6 separate regions of the Homo sapiens genome follow, and all the other regions are linked to region 4. The links come from fine-mapping of genetic effects on gene expression. A gene starts in region 4. Each other region holds a variant in brackets. All regions are shown on one strand. Distances are between the middles of the regions.

Region 1 (4,082 bases), 24 kb after region 4:
GCATCTGTTGTCCCAGCTACTTGGGAGGCTGAGGCAGGAGAATGGTGTGAACCCGGGAGGTGGAGCTTGCAGTGAGCTGAGATCGCGCCACTGCACTCCAGCCTGGGCAACAGAGTGAGACACCATCTCAAAAAAAAAAAAAAAAAAAGGAAATGGGTGGGAGCCCCCACACAGAGTCCCTACTGGGACACTGCCTAGTGGGACTGTGAGAAGCAGGCCACTGTCATCCAGATGCCAGAATGGTAGATCCACCGACAGCCTGCACCATGTGCCTGGAAAAGCAGCAGACACTCAACACCACCTGTGAAAGCAGCTGGGAGGGAGGCTGTACCATGCAGAGTCACAGGGGTGGAGCTGCCCAAGACCATGGGAACCCACCTCTTGCATCAGCATGACCTGGATGTGAGACCTGGAGTCAAAGGAGATCATTTTGGAGCTTTAAAATTTGACTGCCCTTCTGGATTTCAGACTTGCGTGGGCCCTGTAATCCCTTTGTTTTGTCCAATTTCTCCCATTTGGAACTTTTTTTTTTTTTTGAGATGGAGTCTCGCTCTGTTGCCCAGGCTGGAGTGCAATGGCGCGATCTCGGCTCATTGCAACCTCCACCTCCCAGGTTCGAGTGATTCTCCTGCCTCAGCCTCCCAAGTAGCTGGGACTATAGGTGGGTGCCACCACGCCCGGCTAATTTTGTATTTGTAGTAGAGACAGGGTTTCTCCATGTTGGTCAGGCTGGTCTCAAACTCCCGACCTCAGGTGATCCACCCTCCTCGGCCTCCCAAAGTGCTGGGATTATAAGAATGAGCCACCATGCCCGGCCCAGAATGGCTGTATGTACTGAATACCTGTACCCCCATTGTATCTAGGAAGTAACTAACTTGCTTTTGATTTTACAGGCTCATAGGCGGAAGAGACTTGCCTTGTCTCAGATCAGACTTTGGACTGTGGACTTTTGGGTTAATGCTGAAATCAGTTGAGACTTTGAGGGACTGTTGGGAAGGCATGATTGGTTTTGAAATGTGAGGACGTGAGATTTGGAGGGGCCGGGACGGAATGATGTGGTTTGGCTGTGTCCCCACCCAAATCTCAACCCGAATTGTATCTCCCAGAATTCCCACGTTATGGGAGGGACCCAGGGGGAGTAATTACATCATGGGGGCCAGTTTTTCCCATGCTATTCTTCTGATAGTGAGTAAGTCTCATGAGATCTGACGGGTTTATCAGAGGTTTCCTCTTTTGCTTCTTCCTCATTTTCTTTTTTTTTTTTTTTTTTTGAGATGGAGTTCTGCTCTGTCACCCAGGCTGGAGTGCAATGGTGCAGTCTCAGCTCACTGCAACCCCTGTTCCCAGGTTCAAGTGATTCGCCTTTCTCCGCCTCCTGAGTACCTGGGAGGCACCACCACCACGCCTGGCTGCTTTTTGTATTTTTAGTAAAGACAGGGTTTCGCCATGTTGGCAGGCTGGTCATGAACTCCTGACCTCAGGTGAACTGCCCGCCTCAGCCTCCCAAAGTGCTGGCATTACAGGAGTGAGCCACTGTACCCGGCTCTCATTTTCTCTTGCCACCACCATGTAAGAAGCGCCTTTCGCCTCCCACCATGATTCTGAAGCCTCCCCAGCCATGTGGAACCATAAGTCCAATTAAACCTCTTTTTGTTCCCAGTTTCAGGTATGTCTTTATCAGCAGCGTGAAAATGAACTAATATGGGGGTTAGGAAGAGAAGCCAGGAATAAGAGAGGAGACCCTTGTAAAAAGCTTCAGAAAACCAGAACTCGTGGATAGTATTAAATTTGTGATAGCAGAAATGAA[C/A]CTTTCAGTGAGAGGGTTGCAAAATAAAGTTCAGGAAATCTCCCAAAAAGGCAGAGAAGGAAAGATGAGAAGACAAAGTAATTCTCAGGAAGTGTAAGTTCTAAACAGCAGGAGTTCCTGAGGACAGAACTGAGGGCGTGGAGGGCAGGACACCATCGGGAAGCCACATGCAGAAGGGTGGCCACGGAGCCCCCAGGGGACCACACCATGTCCGTCCTGCTGGGATCCGGCCACGGCCCCGGGGTCTCCCCAGAAGATGCTGGCACTCGAGTCAGGGGGCATCAGATTTCTCAGCAACCCCTGAGGCTAGAAGACAGTAGAGGGGCGTTACCATGACCGTCAGGAGAATGACCCCTGCCCCACAGCCACGCACAGCCAGGCTTCCAGTGGAGGTGCAGTGTGCGTGTGTCATGGGGACGTGGATGCGCCTGTGCCACAGGGACAGTCTGTGTATGTCACGGGGATGTCGGTGTGCACGTGTTACGAGGATGTTGGACGCGTGTCACGGGGACATGGTTGCCTGTGTGTCTTGGGGATGTGTCTTGGGGACGCGGGTGCACATGTGTCACGGAGACGCGGTTGCCTGTGTGTCTTGGGGACGCGGGTGCATGTGTGTCACGGGGACGCGGGTGCCTGTGTGTCTTGGGGATGCGGGTGCACGTGTGTCACGGGGACGCGGGTGCCTGTGTGTCACGGGGACGCGGGTGCCTGTGTGTCACGGGGACGCGGGTGCCTGTGTGTCTCGGGGACGCGGGTGCCTGTGTGTCTTGGGGATGCGGGTGCACGTGTGTCACGGGGACGTGGGTGCCTGTGTGTCTTGGGGACGCGGTCGCCTGTGTGTCTTGGGGACGCGGGTGCCTGTGTGTCTTGGGGACGCGGGTGCCAGTGTGTCTTGGGGACGCGGTTGCCTGTGTGTCTTGGGGACGCGGTTGCCTGTGTGTCTTGGGGACGCGGTTGCCTGTGTGTCTTGGGGACATGGGTGCACATGTGTCATGGGGACGTTCTCAGACAAGCAAAGGGCTACTCAGTGCTCCTCCCTTGCGGTTCTGCCTGAGGTGCTCCTGGAAAAGGTGCTCCCTTAGAACTAGGAGGTGAACTTCGGGGAGCACAGGGGACAAGAGGGAAGGGGGTCCAGGGTGAGCAGGGCTGCAGTGCAGCCATCCAGACGGAGGCAGGCAGAGGCTGGGGAATGGGTGTCTCCACAAAGCGTGTGAACCCCAGAGCCAGGCGTGCAGTGCTGCAGACGGGGCCGTTCACCAGGGGAACAGAGGGCGCCCGGCTGTGGACCGTGGAGCCACAGTTCCTTCTGTCTTTCCCCCTCGTTCTTTCAATCTGGTCCTTCTTTGATCTGTTTTCAGATTCACTGACTCATCTGCCATCCACCTGCTGTGAAGCACAGCCACTGAGTCAAACACATTTCAGTGATGACACTTTTTATTGCCGAGTTTCCATTTAGCTCTTTTATGTAGTTTCATATAATCTTCATTTCTCTCCTTTTACTCATTAAAACCATATTTTTTAACTTTATTCATGGTTTTTTGGGGTTTTCTTGAGACAGGGTCTCGCTCTGTCATGCAGGTTGGAAGGCAGTGGTGCGATCTCGGCTCACTGCAGCCTTGATCTCTGGGCTTCCAGCGACTCTTCTGCCTCCGCTTGCTGAGTAGCTGGAACCAAAGGCGTGAGCCACCACACCCGGCTACTTTTTAATTTTTTTGTACAGTTTGACCATGTTGCCTAGGATGGTCTCAAACTCCTGGGCTCAAGTGATCCTCCCGCCTCAGCCTCCCACACTGCACTCGGCCTCCTTGAACTGTTTGAACATGTTTTCTGTTCATTCTGTGAACGCAGTTGAAATCGTTGTGTTAAAGTCTTTGCTAACACCAATAACTTTGAGGCCTTCCTCGAAGTTGCTTTCTGTTCTCTGTTTTTTGTGTTTTTCCACTTGTTTATGGGTCATATTTCCTTGTTTCTTTTTAGGTCTTGTGATTTTTATTACGTGCTGAGTTTCGTGAATTATCCATTGTGGAAACTCTGGATTTAGGTATCATCCTCTGAAGAGCATTGTTTTTCGCTCCGGTGGGCTGTTCAGCTTCTGGCTGAGTCCCTTGAACTTGGGGTTGTGTCTTGATGTTTTGTCAGGGGCTCTTCGGAGAGCCTAGGGCCTTTCTCAAGCCTCCTAAGCTGGGTGGGACTCAACCTTCTCCAGCTTTCACGGGCTTGGTCTGGATCTGTCCTCCGGCTTTCGTGGGCTTGGTCTGGATCTGGCGAGAGGCTC
Region 2 (4,066 bases), 71 kb after region 4:
ACTCCCACCAGGCCCCGATACAGCCTCTGGAGCTGCCTGGCAACCGCCCCTTCCTGTTTGCCTTTGCAGAAGAGCCTGTCACAGGAGAACTGGACCGACCATGTGCAGGTGAGTTCGTGCCCTTGCCTGTAAGCCGGCAGGGCGGCCTGGGCGGCTGTCCTAGGGGCACAGGCCCGGAGCCTCCTGGTGGAAGTGCGCAGAGCTGAGGCCTTCGCTGGGGCTGCTGAGCCCAGACCCCATGTTGGGGCGTGTGGCTGGCAGGCGGGTGTAGGGTCCTCAGGCCCGGGAGGCCTGAGCGGGAGCCGAGGGCATCAGTAGAGCCTGACTGGGCCTCGTTCCAGGCAGACGGCAGCGTCCGTGCCACCCGAACCAACCCAGCGGAGCTGCCTGTGGGGCCGGGTGGGGGCTGAGAGTCACCAGAGAGGTGCAAGGCGCCTGGGCGAGGCCGGAAGGAGGAAGGCCAGGCCCCCCCAGCCCGGTGCCAGCGCAGAGCCGGCCGGAAGGGCAGCGGACGTCCTGAAGAATGCGGGCGGCTTCCACGTATTGTCGTCCACGTGGGAACCCACGCCGGGGAAGCAGCCTCAGGCTGCTGGGCCTGAAGCCAGCGGGGCAGGCGGACCCTCCTCGAGGCCGTGGGGTGGGAGGTCGTGCAGGAGCTCAGCCTGCTGGGCAGGTCCCCTCCCTTCCCGCCTGACACTCAAGGCCATCCTGGACCCATGGACTCCAGGACCTTGCGGGGAGGGAGACCCTCGCTTGTGCTGGGCCCTGCATTTCCCAGCGGGGGCTGAGGGTCCCGCAGGCCTGTAGGTGCCTCTGCTCCTGGGCTGGGCGCTGCCACGGTGGCTGCGGGGTGGGAGAGAGCTCACCCTGGTGAGGATGAGGTTTCTCAGGACCCCCTTGGTCATTGCCACCCAGAGGGCACCCCTCTGTCTGCTCCTGGGCCATGGGTGAATGGGTGCCCAATAGCCTCCTGAGCCCTGCCAGCCAAACCCCACATAATGAGGAGGAGGGGAAGGGGCAGAGGGGCTCCCCTGGCAAGAGGAGGAGCGTGGAGATGGGGCAGGCTGGGCAGGTGCTCCAGAAAACATGCCCGGGCTCCTGGGACCCGGGGTGGGGGCAGATGCCTGGTGAGAGCAGGAGGGCCGGCAGAGGCTTGGAGGCCGGGAAGGTCAGTGGAGGCTTGGAGGCCAGGAGGGCCAGTGGAGGCTTGGAGGCTGGAAAGGTCAGTGGAGGCTTGGAGGCCAGGAGGGCTGGTGGAGGCTTGGAGGCCAGGAAGGTCAGCAGAGGCTTGGAGGCCAGGAGGGCCGGTGGAGGCTTGGAGGCCGGGAAGGTCAGCGGAGGCTTGGAGGCCAGGAGGGGCCAGCTGGGGCTGAACTGAGGTGGGCAGCCTTCACCTCAGGCTTGGAGACCCGGAAGGCCAGCCGGGGCTACACTGGGGTGGACAGCCTTTGCCTCAGCACCTCTATCTCAGCCGCTTTGGTCCTGTGGAACCTTGACCTCAGGCAGGACAGATGCTGCAGGCCTCAGGTGGACGGCTGCCCCTCCTCCCCGAGTGCTCATAGCCAGTCTGCAAGGTCGGGGTCTACGGGGGTCCCTCGGGGCAGGGCCCTGTGGCACAGCAATGTCCCCATCTCCATCCTCACGGCCACCCTCCTCACAGGGCCTGGTGGGGCAGAGCCCGTGGCTTCAGGAGCAGCTGTCTCAGCTGCTGGTCTCCCACAGTGACCCAGTCACGGCCGCCCAGTGTGCCATGGAACTCTTGCTGCCCGAGGAGCGGCTGCCGGCTGCGGTGGCTGTGGAACTCCGCCGGTTCAGGCTCCAGGGGAGGTGAGCGCCGCCAGGGTGACCCCAGCCAGGGGTGGGTTCCGCCCAGGGTGGCCCCTACCCTTGGGACGACAGCTCACCAGTCTTCACGCCAGTGGCTTGAGAATTAGAAATCAAGACAAAACAAAGAGCGCAGCTATACACAGAGCAGACAAGACAGCAGGGCCCAGCCCTCCTCCTCTGCTGCCAGATCCATGGCCAGCCCGACCCATGAGGGACCCTGGGGGGACAGTCACCAGGGCCACTGGGAGGAGAGGCAGGAGCAAGGGTCA[C/T]GCTGGGCTGGACTGAGCCGGTGTGGGAGGAGGAGCCAGGACCTGAGATGCCCCCACCAAACAGGCCCTGAATGCTCCCCTCCTGCTCCGAGGTCAGAGTGGGTGGGGGACCAGGGACATGGGGGCGCTACCAGCTCTGCTCCTCCCAGGGCGACTGAGGCTGACTCGAGGCTGGAGGTGAAGGACATGAAGGACCGTTACTACCAGCTGCCCATCCCCAGGGAGAACGTCCACCTCCTGGCCTCGTGGGAAGACCTGACCAGACACGAGGGTGCACTCCTGCAGGTGGTTCCCTCGGCCGCTGGGGCAGCGCCCGGTGGTGGGATCCCCCTGCCAGGCACTGGAGGAGCATCAGGGGCATGGCATTCGGAGAGAGGCAAGGCCTCTGGGCATGAGCCCGCCAGGTGCCCCAGGGCTGCTGTGAGGGCAGCCGTTCCCCACACTGTGCTGCTGAGACTCCAGGATGCTGGCTGCTGGCATTTACCCAGTGCTGCCAGCCTGTGGAAGGTGCCGTGGAATCCCCATTTTACAGATGGTGCCCGAGACGTGGGGTGCCTCCCTGACACGGGCACTGCCGTGGGCACCAGGCCAGGCTCTTGCTCACAACAGCCAGGCCTCCCTCTCTGGTGCAGCCACAGAAAGCAGGGGGCAGCTGGAGCACAGGCCTTAGTGCCCCCAACAGCCCCAGCCCTATAAACATGCAGGGGTGCAGGGGCGTCTCCCCGAAGCCCAAGCTCACAGAGCTGCTCAGGACCTCCAGGCTGTGGTCCCTGCAGAGCCAAGTTGGCCCTGATGATCACATCTGCCCCTCTCTGCCCGCAGTGCCACCAAGTGGTTGGTGTAGACGTGGAGTGGACACCTGTGTTTGTTGCTGGGGGCCGGCCTCGGCCGTCACTCCTGCAGGTGGCCGTGGAGGGCCACGTGTTCCTTCTGGACGTCCTGGCACTCTCGCAGCCACCAACAGGGCAGGGAGCCCAGGCCTTTTCCCGGCTGGTGGCCCAGCTCCTCTCGGACCCCTCTATCACCAAGCTGGGTGAGTGAAGCCCTGGGGCCCCCTGCCCAGTCCAGAAAGAAAGCAGCCCGCACCCCTGCCTGACCCTTCCCTCCGTGTGCCCCGGGGAGGGTGCTGGGTGCACCCTGGGGTCAGGGGACAGTGCGGTCCCTGCCTGCAGGCGCCCCTCCCACGATGGTTCCTGCCCACAGGCTACGGGATGGTGGGGGACCTGCAAAAACTGGGCACGTCCTGCCCCGCCCTGGCCCATGTGGAGAAGCAGATTCTGGGCGGCATGGACCTGCTGCTGGTGCACAGACAGGTGGGCACCCACTGAGCCGCTCACAAGATGCCGGGTGGGCCTGGGGTTCGAGGGCTGCTTGGGGCCCCTCCACACCTTCCCAGCGGCCCTGGGCTTCTCCCGCCGGATTCCTGTCAGCACAGCCTCAGTCACCAGGGCCCCAGAGCAGAGCCTGGCAGAGCTGGATCTGGCATCTCCAGGGAGGGAGCAGGGCCTCCTGGTGCAGGCATCCCTGAGCCCCTGTGGGGCCGTTATCTGGTGTGAGGGCACCTTCCCCCAGACCTGAGCCCTGGGTTCCACTTGGAGGAGCTGCGGGAGGGAGCCCCTGGGGCTCTATCTAGCCCCCTCCCCGTGATCCCCACCCCTCTCTATCTAGCCCCCTCCTTGTGATCCCCACCCCTCTCTATCTAGAACCCTCCCCGTGATCCCCACCCCTCTCTATCTAGAACCCTCCCCGTGATCCCCACCCCTCTCTATCTAGCACCTTCCCCGTGATCCCCACCCCTCTCTATCTAGAACCTTCCCCGTGATCCCCACCCCTCTCTATCTAGAACCTTCCCCGTGATCCCCACCCCTCTCTATCTAGCCCCCTCCCCGTGATCCCCACCCCTCTCTATCTAGAACCTTCCCCGTGATCCCCACCCCTCTCTATCTAACCCCTCCCCGTGATCCCCACCC
Region 3 (4,082 bases), 53 kb after region 4:
GCCCAGAGTGGGCAGTGCCGGCGCCTGGGACACAGGACAAGGTTCAGGGCCAGGGCACCAGTCGCACCTCGGCACAGTCGCCCAGGTGCGAGATGCGTCGGATCAGTATCCAACCCTTCACTGGCTGCTGGCGGGAGAGGTGGCTTCGGTCCCTTTCGGTCCCGGGCCAGGTCTTAAGTGGTGTCGCAGAAGTGTGGGCTTGGCAGCTAAAGGTGTCTGGATGAGAATTGGTGGAGCTGTTGGAATCACAGTGGTTTGCTGAGTCTCCTTTGTGAACAAGGCTGATTTTTAAGCCCAGAAGGTTCCAAGAGGAAGACCAGGTCTAGCATCACAGCCCCGTCGTCCTGAGCCTGGCCAAGCTGTGACTTGGGTTTGTGTGGAACAGTAGGGAGCAGTGGGGCCTGCAGTGGGTAGGGAGGCGGCCGTCTTGCGTGGGGTGGCTCTGAGCTGTTCCTGCAGGTGCAGGGGAGCCCCCATGACTTCTCGGTGCCCTGAGATTCCAGATCCCAGTGCAGATTCTAGGGTGCAGCACGAGGTGCGGCAAAGAAGCCCGGGGGTGTCCTGCCAGGGGATGTCCTGCTTGGGGGTGCTCGGCCCGGGGGTGCTTGGCCCAGGGGTGTCCTGCCTGGGGGTGCCCAGCCCCGGGGGTGCCTGGCCTGGGGGTGCTCAGCTCAGGGTGCACTGATCATGTATGAGGAGGCCGGCACTCAGGGGCACTGGTCCACTCCCCGCCCCATTAGGGCCCCCTTACTTCAGGGCCGAGCGTGAAGGCCACCACCCCGCTGCCTGCCCACGTGGGACCCTGCTGCTGAGACGCCGTCCCGATGGCACCCTGGGTTCCTCTTCCCAGCAAGACCCCTCACCGTGAGGAGGTGCATTGGAACCTGGGCACGGGCATCGGGGGCTGCCCTGGCCGGGCCCTCACAGGAGTGTCCCCTGTGTGGGCCGCGCGGGCCCCACCCCTGGCGCTGTCACCTGCCACGCCCGGGGCCGTCGTCTCGCGGCGGGTGCATGGCGCTGAGAAGCCACCATGTCCCGGCACAGGACAATGCAGGATGGAGGGTCCCCCTCATGTGGCGCGACGCTGAATGGCGGCCGTGCCTGCGGAGAGTGCAGGGAGGCAGAAGGCAGGCTAGTGTTTCGGGCCGTCTTCTGTTACAGAGCCTTTCAAAGACTGTCTGGGGCCGGCTGAATGCGCCTCCCTCGCGCTCCGAGGCAGGAATCCCCACACAAAGGGGGTCTTGTCCCGCACAGGCCCCTTCTGCGAAGAAAGCCATTGTCCCCGAGCGGGGCCGCCCGGCAGGCGATGCATGCTCCACTGCTCACCGCCGCGCCCGGCCGAAAGAGGCCGCATTCAGGCCTGTCCGCTCGGATTAGCTGGGACTCACGACTCAATGTGCTGCGATATTTCATGTCGAGGGCAGCGGCTGGCCCTGGGCAGGATGAATGCCTGCTTTTGTCCGCTGAGTTATTTTATTTACATTTTTTAAACAGCTTATCAAGGTAAAAAGATAGCTTTGCTTTAAAAAAAAAAAAAAAAAAAAGGCCCTCTTGGCTCCAGGCCCACGCAGAGGTGGGAGGCAGGGCTGTCGCTGGGGTCCTCGGCCTTCGAGCCTGGGCACCTGCCCAGCCTTCCTGCCCCTTAGAATGGGGGGCCCAGGGGAGCCGGGGAATGCCCTTCCCGATGGTCGATACCACAGCCCCTCCTGATTTTCTTTTTTTTTTTTTTTTCCTGAAAGCAGCAGCTCCTGGGCCTGTCTAGAGGTTTCTACAGCCCCACCCCGACCCCGCCAGCTGGACAGCCTCGTCTCTCTCTTCCTGGTGGATGCCTCCCATCCTCTGGCAGCAGAGGTCGGGAAGGTCTGCCTGGTGCAGAGGGGCCCAGTTTGCCCCATCTGTCCTCATGGCCCAGCCCCGGGCTCGTTCCTCCCACGGGGTCCAGGACTCTTCACCTTCTGCTGTCTG[C/T]TCCCTGGGCCTGGCTCTGGGGCCAGGTGACCTTTTTGTGCCTGCTGAGTTTCCCAAGTGGCCAGGCATGGACAGTGGGCAGCTGTACACCGTCCTCTCAGGGAAGTTCAGACAGAAATGACCAGACGCTGATTCTAAGCCAGGCACCACCACAGTGAAAGGGCCAGCAGGGCCCCCAAAGCCTGAGACAGGGGTCAGGCCAGGGAGCTTCCTGGAAGGGGTGGGTCTGCTACTAGCCACCCCCCAGCCCCCCACCCCTGTCACCAGGGCTGCCCATGAGCAAGCCTGGGCTCTGCCCTTACCAGGGTGGAGCTAGGGGAGCTCCATCCTCGTCCTGTCCCCCAAGCTGCGAGGCCACAGAGCCCCCACTGGGCTCCGGGTACAAAATGTGGACACAGATGCTGGGGGCCCCAGGACGCCTGCATGTCCAGAAAGCCCACCTGGCCTCAAGAGGCCCCGGGTGCCCAGAGAGCTTCTGTGGGCCTAGAAAGAAAGGTCCAGACACCTGTTAGCCCTGGGCTCTGAATGGCCGTGGTGAAGAGAAGGGCTGAGCTGGGCACTTTGAACTGCCTCTGACGGGGTCGCAGCGTGCGGGACACAGAGGCAGAAGCCACCCACCTGGGGAGCACGGCCAGTACCCAGCCCCACCCAGGCTCCTCTGCAAGCCTGAGGCGGCCTTCTTGGGCTCAGAGGGGTTCCTGGTTGGGTGGGGCCCGCCGAGGGCTGGGACTGGAGCCTGAAGTCTGTCCCTCGGAGGGAGGCTGGGGACAGCAGCGGTGAGGGAAGGCCCTGGCCACCTGCCCCTTGCTGTGTCCCCAGCCTCCCTGGTCCCAGCGTCACCTGCTCAGGGCCTGGTCCCAAGGAGGTGCCGGGCGCAGCCCCATCCTCCACTTCCCTGCACCTGACAATAACCACATGCGGCAGGAGGAGCAGAGGGCGGGCGGGTTGTGACCACCCTGCGGTTCTGAACGGGGTGAGGTGTCCGGCCCTGCACCCCTGCCTTCCGGAGCTCTGGCAGCTTCTCAGGGGGTCCCTGATCCAGAAGGGATCAGAGCCCTTGTGTGAAGCTGCGGGTGTCACTGCTGGGGTGGTCCCCATGTGGTGGCCCCTGCGCCCATGCTCACAGCCGTAAGCCCACCTCCCAGGCCCTGCGCCCCTCCCCATGTGGTGGCCCCGTGCCCCTCCCCGGCCCTGCGCCCCTTCCCACGGCCCTGAGGCCCCGCCCCGGCCCTGCGCCCCTCCCCACGACTCCGAGACTCCCACGCCCCGGGCCCTGCGCCCCTCCCCACGGCCCTGAGACCCCCTCCCCGGGTCCTGCGTCCCTTCCCCTGACCCTGCGCCCCTCCCCACACGGCTCTGAGAAGCCCCCCCACCCCGCCCCGGGCACTGCACCCCGTCCCCCGGCCCTGTGCCCCTCCTCACGGGCCTGAGACTCCCTTCCCGGGCCAGGCGCCCCTGCCCACAGCCCTGGGGCCCCGCCCCGGACCTTCGCCCCTCCCCACGGCCCTGAGACCCCCGCCCCGGGCCCTGCGCCCCATGGGCCTGGTGGAGGCCTAGCCTCTTGGACCCTGGCCAGACAGTAGAGGCGCCGGGTCAGCGCTGCGCAGGGAAAGGCCCCCGGCCCTGCGCCCCCACCCTGCGCACCGGGGCTGGAAGCCGGCTCGAGGCTTTCCCAGGCCGCTATTTTGGTCCTTTCTCTGGGCTGCGCGGGGGCGGGGCGCCGATGCTCCGCGGGCTGCTCTCGTGGGTCATTTTTGCTGGCTATGGGAGCGCGGCTTATGGAAATTATTAATAGCAGCTCAGGCCCGTGGTACGTGCAGGCGGTCAGGGCCCGGCCGTGCCCCGATCGCAGCCAGTGTGGCCTTGGAGCGCTCGCGGGGTGCCCGTCTCCGCCTCGTGGGAAGGGCTAGGACCCCCCAGGCCTCAGGATGCGCTGAGGCTGGGGGTCCTCAGCCTTGGCCCGTCCACTGCAGGCACCATTGTGTTCTGGGGCCCGCAGATGGGTCGTGTGGGAGGTCACGGCTTTGCGCCTTGCCTTGACCCCACCTCCTAGCCTTCCTCTGGCTCATCAGCAATCCCCGAGCAAGGCCCTGGGACCCAGGCTGTGTGGCCAGCCA
Region 4 (4,082 bases):
GGTGTGAAGTGTGGCGGCTGAGCACAGGCACGCAGCCCTGATGTGGGGTGGCGGCTCAGGGCCAGCAGAACCCACCTGTCTGCCCCAAACGTCACGCAAGGCTCCTAACAAGAGACAGCAGTTCCAGCGACACCCTCTGCACCCTGGGCTGCCCCTCACGTGATCGGCTTTATGAATCATAGCTGTTCCATCTGCTTTCCTAAGTTCCCATATTCCTAACATGCATATGCTGTGGGTTAGTCGTATGACTTTCACTGCGTCCCCTCTCTGTAGTGAAACCAGGCACAAGAGCACAAGTGACTGGGTTAGCCCCGGACATAGGATTTGTTGCTGAACCACCTGGTGTCTAAAGATTACATTCCCTTTCTTGGATAACATTTTAAAATGAAATCATTGTGGGCCGGACAAGGTGGCTCACATGTGTAATCCCACCACTATGGGTGGCCGAGGAGGGTGGATCACCTGAGGTCAGGAGTTCAAGACCAGCCTGACCAACATGGTGAAACCCGTTTCTACTAAAAATACTAAATTAGCCAGGCGTGGTAGTGGGCGCCTGTACTCCCAGCAACTAGGGAGGCTGAGGCAGGAGAATTGCTTGAACCCGGGAGGCAGAGGTTGCAGTGAGCCAAGATTGGGCCACGGCACTCCATTCAGCCTGGGTGACAGAACGAGACTCCATCTTTGAAACAAACAAAAAAATGAAATCATTATGGAGGTGATTGTAAATTTGTACGCAGCTTTAAGACACAAGAGAGGGGGGTCTCATGCGCTTTGCCCAGTCTCCTCCAAGGGGGATATTTTGCCAGTCAGGGGCGTGGAGACCCTCCCACAGCGCGCAGTTCCCTCTCCTTTAAATCACTGCTGTCACCGAGCCTTCAGTAACCGTGGGCACCTGCCTGCTTCTGCGGGGTGCTTGGGACTGAGCGGGGGTGGGCAGCGCTGGCGTTTGGGATGCGCAGGAACAGGCGGCCCCGGAACGCGAGGGGGCACGAGAAGGGCACCGGGCTCCGTGCAGGGCCTCGGCCGCTGCACCCTGGCACCCTGGACTCCTGGCTGTTTCGGGGAGTGGGCTGGGGGAGGGCTGAGGGCTCTGAGGAGGAGACTGACCCGGTCTCCCGGCCATGACCACAGGCGCAACGCTTTCCCCTTAGGGCAGGGCGGTCCCTCGGGCCTGACCCAGCCCAGCAGCTTCCCCCTTCCCGGTGTGAGTCACCCTCGGGCCCCGGCCTCTCCCGGTGACCGCCGCGCCCCCCAGCGCGGCCTCGCTTAGCTCAGGTGCGGCCCCCCTGCTCGGCTCCCACCTGCCGGGGCGTTCGCTGGGTCGGGGGCGGCAGGGCGACCCCGTGACGGTCGGGGAGGGGCGCTGGGCCCTCCCCAGGGGCTCGAGGCGGAGGCGTCGCCCGCACCGGCCTCCCCACGCCCCGCTCACCCGCAGCGCGGCCTCGGGGTCCCCGGCCAGCAGGTGCACGCAGCCCGCGTTGAAGCACAGCCTGGCGGGCGGCGCCGGGACGCCCGAGAAGAGGTGCAAGGCGCGGGCCCAGTCCCCACGATCCACAGCCTGCGCGCCCAGGTGCCAGGCGCGCACCAGGTCCCCCAGAGAGGCCATGGCGGCCGGTGGCGGCGCTCGAGGAGGGGCCAGGATCCCGCGGAGGGGCCGGGGCCGGGGCCAGGCGGCGGCGCGGGGCTGCGGGGTCTCCGAGGCGGGCAGAGGTGCGGGCGCCAAGCGCCAGGTGCAACCCCGCTGCCCCGCGGCGCCCCCTGGCGGCAGGCGCCCGCCCCTCCCCGGTAAGGCCACGCCCCCGCCAGAAACGGCTACGCCCACTCCAGACCCTCAGGCCTCGCCCACCTCCCATTCGGCCCCCGCCCCGGCCGGACTTCCGCCGGGAGCTTTGTGCGCCCGGCTTCCTCGCCCCGCCCGCGCTGGCCTTGGTGCGCCGGATAAAGCCCTCCGGGCCAGCGGCTGCGGTCGGGCCAAGGTTCCGCGCCGGGCGTGGACGGTGTGGGGCGGTCCCGGCCCCGCAGGTGAGCGACCCCGGGCCGCGCGGGCCAGGTGGGCGGTCTGGGCGCCGGGGGCAGAGCGGGGCCGGGCCGGGTGCGCGTCCTGAGGTGAGGGCCGTAGCTGGGAGTGAGCCGGGGGCGGGCCGCCGGCTCTCCCGGGGTGGGGAAACTGAGGCCCCGATGGGGCGGGGAAGGTGCGTTCTCCCGCAGGGCCCCGCTCCGGAGGCCGCCGAGCAGCCGGACGCCGCGGGGAGCTGAGCCGACCCCGGCGACCCCGCCGCCCTGTCCCGCAGGGCCTGCCCTCCTCCGCGCCTTCCGAGCACGGACATCACAGGACCCGGAGGCCCTTCGCTCCCTCGCCGAGGAGGAGGCGCTCCCGGTGGGACGCGCGCGCGCCCGCCCTGCCCTCCCCGGGAGAAGGGACGGGCGCCTCCCTGCAGGGGCCCTGGCTTCCTGTCCACCGGCGCTGAGTCCTGTATTAGTTGTCAACCTAAAATAATTAAAAGGGTCAGAATGTGGTGCCCGGTGGGTTTATTCAGGCACAGAGGTCGAGGGCGGCCTGGGTCACCAGGTGCAACGGAGAACAAAACAGAGGCTCAGGTTTTTAAAGAAAACAGAGCCCATCGGAGAGCAGGTGGTTTCGAACGTTGCCCAGGAGCTCACTGGCTTGTAGAAATGGCATTGGTTCGCGATTGACCACGGCTTGGTGTCATCAGTGGATAGTTACTTGGCTCGAGGGGTAGTGAGGGGCTGCGGTTTCATTTGAAATGCTTTCTGGCACTTAACATCAAGCTTTCTGGGCCCACAGTTTAAAAGGGCTTTACATTCCTCAGATAAATGATTTTTTTCTTTCTCATTTGCCCCCCTTTTGATCAAAATCTTTCTTCTTGAAAGCATTGATTATCAAAATCTGAGGGTCAGAGTGTCCCCTCTTGCTGGGAAGGCTCATTCCCACATAGTCCTGTCCCATGCCAAGCAGGGAAGGAGGAGACATTTCAGGGAGTTTTTTTTTTTTTTTTTTTTTTAAGAACACCACAAACTGAATTGGAATGGCATTACAGGGTGGCAAACATGAGGTCTCAGTGAAGTCATTAATTTATACAACTGCTGTCACCTGTTGAATCATCTCTAGTTTTTAGAAACACCATTAATTTTAATTTTCTCAGAAGTAACACATAGGACTATAACCAATTTGTATGCCAGGATGAAAAAAACAAACCTGTTCCATTAGGGAGACAACTAAAAACATGAAGAAACTAAAATCCATGTTCTTCTTTCTTTTTATTTATTTGTTTACTTAGAAATGGGGTCTTGCTCTGTCACCCATGCTGGAGTGCAGAGGCACGATTCCCACTCATCGCAGCCTTGAACTCTTGGGCTTAAATGATCCTCTTGTCTTAGCCTCCTGAGTACCTGGGAATACAGGTGTTTGCCACCAGGACCGGCTAATTTTAAATTTTTTTGGTAGAGACTAGGTCTTGACACCTTGCCCAGGCTAGTCTCGAACTCCTGAGCCCAAGTGATCCTCTCATCTGGGCCTCCCAAAGTGCTGGGGTTATAGGTGTGAACCTCTGCCCAGCCAGGTTCTTCTTTGAGACTTGTAGCCAGAAGATTGTTCAGGATTTAGTCCAGATTGTAGGAAAATAAAAAATACAATGATCAGGGCTAGAATCCAGTAACAGGTATGCTGTAGTTTTTCTCTGAAACATAATTTTTCTCTACTTCCCCATTTCTACCAAAGATAAATCTTGGTAAGACCAATTTACTTGTAAAATAAATTTTAGGATTATATTTGGCCTGATTATTTGCCTAAAGTACAACAGTGGTGATTGGCCATATAGGCTCCTTTCTAAACTGGCTGGAACTTTGCCATAAGGAATTTCAGACTTTTTTTCCCCACATCAGACAGGTAATGTGCTGGCGTCATAACAGCGTTTGAAGGAGACAGACCCTACACATGAGGCAATCATCATGCTTATGAACTACAAGAGGGTCAGAATAGACCTTTAAAAGCCACTTGAGGGCTGGGCATGGTGGCTCATGCCTGTAATCCCAGCACTTTGGGAGGCCAAGGTGGGAGGATT
Region 5 (4,082 bases), 35 kb after region 4:
CAGGTTCAAGTGATTCTCCTGCCTCAGCTTCCTGAGTAGCTGGGATTACAGGCACCCACCACCATGCTTGGGTAATTTTTGTATTTTTAGTAGAGACGGGGTTTCGCCATGTTGGCCAGGCTGGTCTCGAACTCCTGACCTCAGGTGATCTGCCCGCCTCGGCCTCCCAAAGTGCTGGGATTACAGGCATGAGCCACTGTGCCGGGTCTGTTACTTTTTAAAAATAGGCATTTCATCTTCCAATATTTCTGTTGTAGGTAGGATCTTTTCTTCAGCAGATTTTCTGACCTGCGGTTGCAGAATGAAATTTGGGGATCTCTCTGTCCCTCTCTGCATGCATCCACCTGGCTCCCAGCGTCCCAGCTCCTTGCTGGTCTCACTGTCCCTCTCTGTCCCTCTCGCTCCGAGCGTCCCAGCACCTCGACGTACTCACTGTCTCTGAGTGGCGTCCGCCTCATGCCCCCTGAGCTGGTACCGCCCTTTCCCTCTCTGCCTCCTTGTGGGGTCCACAGCATCGAACGGTGGGCTCTCCCCCTCATCCCGCTTTCCCAGCAGAGGCAGCTTGGGCTTAGGCTGGGTCAGGTTCTGTCTCCAAGGCCCTCGGCTTCATGGATGAGGCAAGTGAGTAGGACTGAGGGTGAGGGGACCCATGACCGATGAGAGACGGTGCTGTGCTGGGGTTGTGGGCCGCTGTGTTGATAGAGCAAGGGGCTCCGTGCCAGATGCTGGACCTCCGGGAGCCCCTTCACCTCACTCCCCAGACACGGGCGGTCCTCTGCGGCGAGCCGAGGTGGAGGGCACACGCTGTCCGCCGGGCTTGGGGTCTCGTTGCCGCCTCTGTCCTTATCACGTCCCCCGCCCTGCCTGCAGCTGAGCACAGGCAGATGTGGGTGGAATCTGAGACCAGAGACGGTTGGGCTGGAGGGGGTGGCCCCATCTCAGCTGCCCCCGGACGCCAGAAGGCCACCAGGAGACAGACTCGTGGCAGAGGGACGGAGGCCCCAGTGCGTGGTGGGTGGGCGTGGCCTCTCAGGACACGCCTGCGGGAGGTGCCATGGGGTCTCTGAGGGGAGCTGAGGCCGTGGGCTGGCCCTTTCTGCTGTCCGTGGGCGGTCAGAGGACTGACCCAGGCGGGGTGCTGTGCTGATAGCAGGTGCCTGGACCCGTGGACATGCAGGTCACCACAGCGCGTGGGGTCTGGTCTGGGCGGCCGGGCTCTTCTACACTCACTGCCGCGGGGTCTGATGCTGCTGGCAGGTGTGGGACGGCCTTGGAGACGGGCTGTGAGCTTTGTGACCCAGGCCCCAAGAGGAGAGCCAGCTGCCGGGGAGACCCACTCGGGGGCTTTGTGAAGACCACGTCACAGACTTCCTGCCTGGAGGCCGGGTGTCCCCTGCCAGCATCCGCTGCCTGGTGTCCTCTGCCTGGCGCCCGCTGCTGGGGTCGGCCTCAGTTCCTGGGGCTTCTGTGCCCCCAACCCTGTGGATAAAAAGCCCCCTGTGTTTCTCATCCCCGCTTTATGGTAGAGTGTCGGGAATAACAGAGCCTTCGGCGCCACCCACTCCACAGCCCACAGTTTCCCGCGTGCGTCTGTGTCTCAAGGTGAAGGCAGCCCCATTAGCCGGGTGTCGTTTGGAGGAAGTGGCGTCCCTGTGTTCTGCCCATCCTGCGTCCCTGCAACCATCCGTCCTCCCGTCGGCCGGCGCGGGGGTGTCAGCTGGGGAGCCGTCCTGGGGACAGATGGTGGAGCCGTCCTGGCCGCCTCTGCCTGGACACCCTCAGGCC[A/G]ACCCCACAGAGTTCCTGAGCCCTCCCAGGCACGTTTTGGGGAGGGTGGCTGGGGGGGAAGCCAGTGTGGGCACCAGGCTCTGGTGCTGGGCAGGGACCATGATTCAGCCCCCCAGAGAGAAGCAGCCCAGCTCTTGGATGTGAATCCACATTCGGGGGACTGTGGGACTTTTATTCTTGAGCTTGAGTTTTTTCTAGGTGTCCTCCTAATACACAGCTGCCCCGCTCTGCCCCCACCCACATGGTTCCAAGGGGCAGGGTCCAGGGTCAGGGCCCAGCCTCCTGGCCAGGGCCATCTGTCTCAGCGTCCTAGACCTGCCTGTCTGCAGGTCCCAGGCATCGGTGCAGCACTGATGAACTTGGCGAATTCAGGGAACTTGGGCCTGGGTGTGGAGGTGGGGGCCAGAGGCCACCCACGGAGCTCCGGCCAAACATCCACGCTGGGGACCAAAGGCCCCCAGAAGCTACTGCACGAGGAGGCGACCTCAGGGAGGGCTGGCTGGGGCTTCTGGGGCCGGAGAGCGGGTCTGGGAGGTCCCTCGGTGTCAGCTCCAAGCCCCACCCGCCCTTCTCGGACCCCGTGCCCCTGCGTGGTATCCCTGAGTTGGGGTGCGTGGGGTGCTGTGTGCTGAGTGGGGTGTGTCCCCCAGGGCTCTCCCAGGCACCCTGTCCTCTCACTGCTGAGCCCTGGGGCTCACAGAGCTCGCTTGTCTTCTTCGTTCAGACAGAAGCCGCCCCTGGACATCCTGTTTTTCTTCTGTTGTATGAACAGGAAGCCAGCAATTGTGTGGGATGAGTGTCAGCATGGCCGTGTCTGAGCCCGGCACGGCAGACACTTGTCCCGCCACACCTGCCATGGGTCCCTCCAGCTCTGGCCCGAGAGACTCAGGGCTCCCCAGGGCTCCCCAGTTGCGTGGGCTGTGAGCACCATGTGTGCACGGCTGGCCCTGGAATGGCTGGGGCGGGCACCGTGGAGTGTCCATCGTGCACCGGCCATGGCCTGGAAGGAGACCCAGGCGGTCACTGCCCTGGGGCTCAGCGTTGAGGCCACAGTGAAGCGACAGGGGCAGAAGGGCAGGGGCCGGGGGCCAGGCAGGGAGCGGGGGCCGAGGGCCAGGCAGGGAACAGAGGCGCTGAGGGAGGCAGACAAGGAGTAGGGGCCGGGGGCCAGGCAGGAAGCAAGGGCCGGGGGCCAAGCACGGAGCAGGGGTGCTGAGGGAGGCAGGCAGGGAGCAGGGGTGCTGAGGGGGCCAGGCAGGGAGCGGGGGTGCTGAGGGAGGCAGGCAGGGAGCAGGGGTGCTGAGGGAGGCAGGCAGGGAGCAGGGGTGCTGAGGGAGGCAGGCAGGGAGCAGGGGTGCTGAGGGGGCCAGGCAGGGAGCAGGGGTGCTGAGGGGGCCAGGCAGGGAGCAGGGGTGCTGAGGGAGGCAGGCAGGGAGCAGGTGTGCTGAGGGGGCCAGGCAGGGAGCAGGGGTGCTGAGGGAGGCAGGCAGGGAGCAGGGGTGCTGAGGGGGCTTCCGGGCAGGCTGCTGGGTGCTCGAGAAGCAGCCTCAGGCCCAAGGGGCAGGGTCCAGGTACACGGAGGTTGGAGGCTGGGAGGATGTGGTGGGCCCTGGCTTTGACTCTCAAGGCTGAGGGGCCACGGTGGAGTCCATAAAGTGGCCTGGCCTGCCCCATATTTCTGTAGGATGCTAGGGCTGTGCCGTGTTGCGCGGCTGGGTGTTGTCTGAGGGCACAGCGTCAAGGCAGGGAGTCCCCTGGGAATCTGGAGTGGCCCAGGTCGGTGGGAGGGGGCAGACCCTGCCCACCTGGAGGGCAGAACCAGCAGGACCTGAGCAGGGCAAAGACCAGCAACACTGACTGGGGAGTAGGAGGGCCGGCATCACCAACTTCCCACCTGGAAAGGTGGATCTCGATTTGGAGAACTTAAAAAGAATAATAAGGACACCCTGCTTATTGATGGATGGATTGATTGACAGGTTCTCACTCTGTCCCCCAGGCTGGAGGGCAGTGGCACAATCAGGGCTCACTGCAGCCTCAACCTCCCAGGCTCCAGCCATGCTCCCACCCCAGCCTCCCAAGTGGCTGGGACCTCAGGAGCGCCACCATGCCCAGCTAATTTTATTTATTTTGGTAGAGATGGGGTCTTGCTGTCTTGCCCAGGCTGGTCTCAAACTCCAGGGCTCAAGCGACCCACCCACCTCAGCCTCCCAAAGTGCTGGGATTACAAGTGTAAGCCACCTTGCCCAGCTTCACCCTGCTTTTAAAAATATGTGAAATATACATAACATGAAATTTAC
Region 6 (4,082 bases), 42 kb after region 4:
CTGGCGCTGCCTGCTCCTGTGTCTGCCTCTCTCCTGCACCCACCTCTGCCAGCTTTCGTTTGTCCATCAGCTCGGTGGCTTCTTGGGCCTCCAGCTTGTGAATCTCTGTCCTTGCTTTTGAGATTTCCCTCTGCCGTTCCATTTCCAGGCTCTCTTGTCGGACCTTCGTCTGTGACGCTCAGTCTTCCTCGCTCTTTGGCACCTGCGTGTGTGGTGTGAGCCTCCCCGGGTCCCGCCCTCTGCCCCCCGCCCCCCACGTGTCTGAGTTGTGGGATTCCACTGTCCTTTCCTCCCTATGTCCTGACATTCGTCCTGGCGTCTCCTTGGAGCAGCGCTTGTTTATACACAGACAGGGCTGAGATCTGCTCCGGGCTCCGCTGACAGCCATGAGGCCGTCAGGCATTTCATCTTCATGGGGTGGGCCTGTGTCTGTGCCCTCACCTCCTCCGCGCGCCCTCACCTCCTCCGCATGCTCCCACCTCCTCCCCGCGCCCTCACCTCCTCCCCGCGCCCTCACCTCCACCGCCGCCCTGACCTCCACCGCCGCCCTGACCTCCACCGCGCGCCCTCACCTCCTCCGCGCGCCCTCACCTCCTCCCCGCGCCCTCACCTCCTCCCCGCGTCCTCACCTCCTCCCCGCGTCCTCACCTCCTCTGCGTGCTCCCACCTCCTCCCTGCGCCCTCACCTCCTCCTCGTGCTCTCACCTCCTCCTCGCGCCTCCATCACATTCCCGGATTCCAGCAAGCTGGCGAATGCCACATGCCCAGTGGCCCTGGGTGGGCCAGGAGCCTTGAAGATGGGGTCCTTGGGGGTCCTGGGTGCTGAGGAGAAGCCCAACCCTAGAGCCGGCTGCACATGGAGGTCTTGGGGACCCCCATATGGTGGCACAGACGCCGGGTGCCCCCAGAGGAGGGAGATGAAGACCAGGATTTTGGAGAACTCCTTGGGGCGGTCTGCAGTATAAAGGGGGCAATGGGACTGTTGGCCGTCTGGGAGGGCTTAGGTGTTCCTCTAACGTGAGAGAGGAGCCAGCACACCGGGCGGGTGAGAGCAGCCTGGGAGACGGGCAGGAGGAGGAGGCAGGGCTGGGGCGGGGTGAGGGCCTGGAGTAGGCGCACTCCCAGAGTGGGGCTCCCCTGGTTCATTGGGCCCTTCCCAGCCCCACTGCCCAGCAGCCTGTGGTGGGGTGTTCCTGTCTTTTTTTTTTTTTTTTTTTTTTTTGAGAAGGAGTCTTGTTCTGTCACCCAGGCTGGAGTGCAGTGGTGCAATCTCGGCTCACTGCAAGCTCCGCCTCCCGGGTTCAAGGGATTCTCCTGCCTCAGCCTCCGGAGTAGCTGGGATTACAGGCGCGCGCCACCACGCCCGACTAATTTTTTTTTTGTATTTTTAGTAGAGACGGAGTTTCACCATGTTGGCCAGGCTGTTCTCGAACTCCTGACCTCAGGTAATCCGCCCGCCTCGGCCTCCCAAAGTGCTGGGATTACAGGTGTGAGCCACCGCACCCAGGCTTTTCGTGTGTGTGTGTGTGTGTGTGTGTGAGACAGAGTCTTGCTCTGTCACCCAGGCTGGAGTGCAGTGGCATGATCTCGACTCACTGTAACCTCCGCCTCCCAGATTCAAGTGATTCTCTTGCCTCAGCCTCATGAGTAACTGGGATTAATAGGTGTGCAACACCACGCCTGGCTATTTTTGTATTTTTAGTAGAGAC[A/G]GGGTTTCACCATGTTGGCCAGGCTGGTCTTGAACTCCTGACCTCAAGCAATCCACCTGCCTCGGCTTCCCAAGATGGTCCTGTTGTAACAGGGTGGTCCTATCCTAACAGCCCCTCGGGGGGGCCTTCTGGTGCTGCTGAGCCCATGGGACCCCCCCAGCCCCACTACTGAAGCCGTGAGTGGAGCCAACAGCTCAGTGCAGGGGATGCCAGCCAGCAGGGAGGAAGGGGGATACCGGCGGGGGGATTGGGGGGGATGCCCAGAGGGGGGTTGGGGAGGAGGGGGGATACGGGTGGGGAGGATTGGGGGGATGCCCAGAGGGGCATTGGGGTGGGGGGGAACCAGTGGAGGGATTGGGGGGGATGCCCAGAGGGGGGATACTGGTGGGCGTTATCGGGGGGGACGCCCAGAGGGGGGTTGGGGTGGGGGAGATACCGGTGGGGGGATTGGGGGGGATGCCCGGAGGGGGGTTGGGGTGCGGGGGATACTGGCGGAGGGATTGGGGGGGACGCCTGGAGGGGGGTTGGGGAGGAGGGGGGATACCGGCGGGAGGATTGAGGGGGATGCCCGGACGGGGGTTGGGGTGGGGGGGGATACTGGCAGGGGGATTGGGGGGGACGCCCAGAGGGGCATTGGGGTGGGGGAGCTCACATTGTTTTCTCCGTGCACAGCAGGAGGCTCTTTGTAGCTGAGGGGACCAGGAATGAGGAGTGAAGACCAGTGAAGGGCTCGAAGGGAGGAGGGACCGGCAGGGTGGGTGGGACGGCTTCCTTCACAGGGACCCCGGGAGGGAGGCAGGCAGCGCAAGGGGAGCCCAGTCTCAGAGCCATGGGTCCCAAGGGTCTTGGCACGTTCATTGAGGCCACCAAGATAAGGACAGGAGCTGGAAGGAGATGCCTGGGCCAGGACTGAAGTCTCCCGGAACAACGGGCTGGGACCCTGAGGCTGGCAGGGGTGCAGTGGGCACTGGGTCCATGTGTGGCTTGCGCTGGCCGACGTGGGCACACAAGGGGCACAGCTGCCACTGGGGGCCTGGAGGGGAGGACCCAGCTGGGGTCTGGAGGGCCAGGATTTTGCAGAAGGTTTACGGGACTGAAGCAGGAGTGAGGGAAGGCGGGCTGTGGTTAGAACGGGTGCTGCAGAACTCCGGGGGTGACAGAAACCAGCCTGGGCGAGAGCGCACCCCAAATCAGAGCCACGGAGCGTCGGCTTCATCGAATGCTTTATTGGGGTAAGATGCACGACATATAAAACCAGCCGTTTCACAATGAGTGACTCAATGGCCTGGAGCGCCCAGTCGTGCTTCGTGAATCTTTCTACATCTTCACAACCTGTGCACCTCTTCTGGTTTCAGAATGGTTCATCGCTTCAGAAGCAAACCCCGTACCCCTCACACAGACGCCCCATTCCCCTCGGCCCCAGGCAACGGTCACCGTCACCCGCAAACCCCGTACCCCTCACACAGACGCCCCATTCCCCTCAGCCCCAGGCAACGGTCACCGTCACCCACAAACCCCGTACCCCTCACACAGACGCCCCCATTCCCCTCGGCCCCAGGCAACGGTCACCGTCACCCGCAAACCCTGTACCCCTCACACAGACGCCCCCATTCCCCTCGGCCCCAGGCAACGGTCACCGTCACCCACAAACCCCGTACCCCTCACACAGACGCCCCATTCCCCTCGGCCCCAGGCAACGGTCACCGTCACCCACAAACCCCGTACCCCTCACACAGACGCCCCCATTCCCCTCGGCCCCAGGCAACGGTCACCGTCACCCACAAACCCTGTACCCCTCACACAGATGCCCCATTCCCCTCGGCCACAGGCAATGGTCACCGTCACCCACAAACCCCGTACCCCTCACACAGACGCCCCATTCCCCTCGGCCCCAGGCAACGGTCACCGTCACCCACGAACCTTGTACCCCTCACACAGATGCCCCATTCCCCTCGGCCCCAGGCAATGGTCACCGTCACCCACAAACCCCGTACCCCTCACACAGATGCCCCATTCCCCTCGGCCCCAGGCAACGGTCACCGTCACCCACAAACCCTGTACCCCTCACACAGACGCCCCATTCCCCTTGTCACACAGGCCCTAGCCACTGCTCACCCGCTTTCTGCCTCTGGATTTGCCACTTCTGGACAGTTCACACACATGCGGTCACATAACATGGGGTCTTTTGTGACTTGCTTCTTCATTTAGCACGATATCAAGGCTTGTCTATGTGGATGTCTGTGTCAGCTTCCTCCTTTTCCGTGGCTGAGTAATACGTGGCCAGGCCACATGCTGTTTCTTCATAGACAGCTGAGGGTCATCTGCGCCATCTCCACCTCTGGCCGTTGTAAATAAGTACTTCTCTGAAAATTC

Evidence for each region.
Region 1: its variant is fine-mapped to the expression of EXD3 in whole blood (TOPMed, PIP above 0.99).
Region 2: its variant is fine-mapped to the expression of EXD3 in whole blood (TOPMed, PIP above 0.99).
Region 3: its variant is fine-mapped to the expression of EXD3 in whole blood (TOPMed, PIP above 0.99).
Region 5: its variant is fine-mapped to the expression of EXD3 in whole blood (TOPMed, PIP above 0.99).
Region 6: its variant is fine-mapped to the expression of EXD3 in spleen (GTEx, PIP above 0.99). The same link has a PIP of 0.9 or more in pancreas and unexposed skin.

Annotation. Positions count from the first base shown.
Region 1 is chr9:137,397,219-137,401,300 of GRCh38, reverse strand. The region is part of intron 1 of EXD3 (exonuclease 3'-5' domain containing 3); the gene reads left to right. Among named protein-coding and RNA genes, the nearest start is that of EXD3, 24 kb to the left of the region's middle. The variant C/A (reference allele first, on the strand shown) is at 1,808.
Region 2 is chr9:137,350,381-137,354,446 of GRCh38, reverse strand. EXD3 (exonuclease 3'-5' domain containing 3) reads left to right here. Exons shown (of 22, transcript NM_017820.5): 10 at 70-108; 11 at 1,661-1,827; 12 at 2,246-2,381; 13 at 2,919-3,129; 14 at 3,300-3,409. Among named protein-coding and RNA genes, the nearest start is that of NRARP, 50 kb to the right of the region's middle. RefSeq lists enhancers at 2,455-2,963, 2,964-3,473. The variant C/T (reference allele first, on the strand shown) is at 2,097.
Region 3 is chr9:137,368,254-137,372,335 of GRCh38, reverse strand. The region is part of intron 5 of EXD3 (exonuclease 3'-5' domain containing 3); the gene reads left to right. Among named protein-coding and RNA genes, the nearest start is that of EXD3, 53 kb to the left of the region's middle. RefSeq lists silencers at 1,922-2,111, 2,593-2,793 and an enhancer at 3,497-4,082. The variant C/T (reference allele first, on the strand shown) is at 1,966.
Region 4 is chr9:137,421,054-137,425,135 of GRCh38, reverse strand. EXD3 (exonuclease 3'-5' domain containing 3) reads left to right here and starts at 1,974. Exons shown (of 22, transcript NM_017820.5): 1 at 1,974-2,022. It overlaps NOXA1 (NADPH oxidase activator 1), which reads right to left and starts at 1,743. Exons shown (of 14, transcript NM_001256067.2): 1 at 1,430-1,743. The coding sequence starts at 1,606. It also overlaps the pseudogene LOC124902354. RefSeq lists silencers at 1,513-2,072, 2,093-2,232, 2,243-2,382.
Region 5 is chr9:137,385,966-137,390,047 of GRCh38, reverse strand. The region is part of intron 2 of EXD3 (exonuclease 3'-5' domain containing 3); the gene reads left to right. Among named protein-coding and RNA genes, the nearest start is that of EXD3, 35 kb to the left of the region's middle. The variant A/G (reference allele first, on the strand shown) is at 1,786.
Region 6 is chr9:137,378,556-137,382,637 of GRCh38, reverse strand. The region is part of intron 3 of EXD3 (exonuclease 3'-5' domain containing 3); the gene reads left to right. Among named protein-coding and RNA genes, the nearest start is that of EXD3, 43 kb to the left of the region's middle. The variant A/G (reference allele first, on the strand shown) is at 1,710.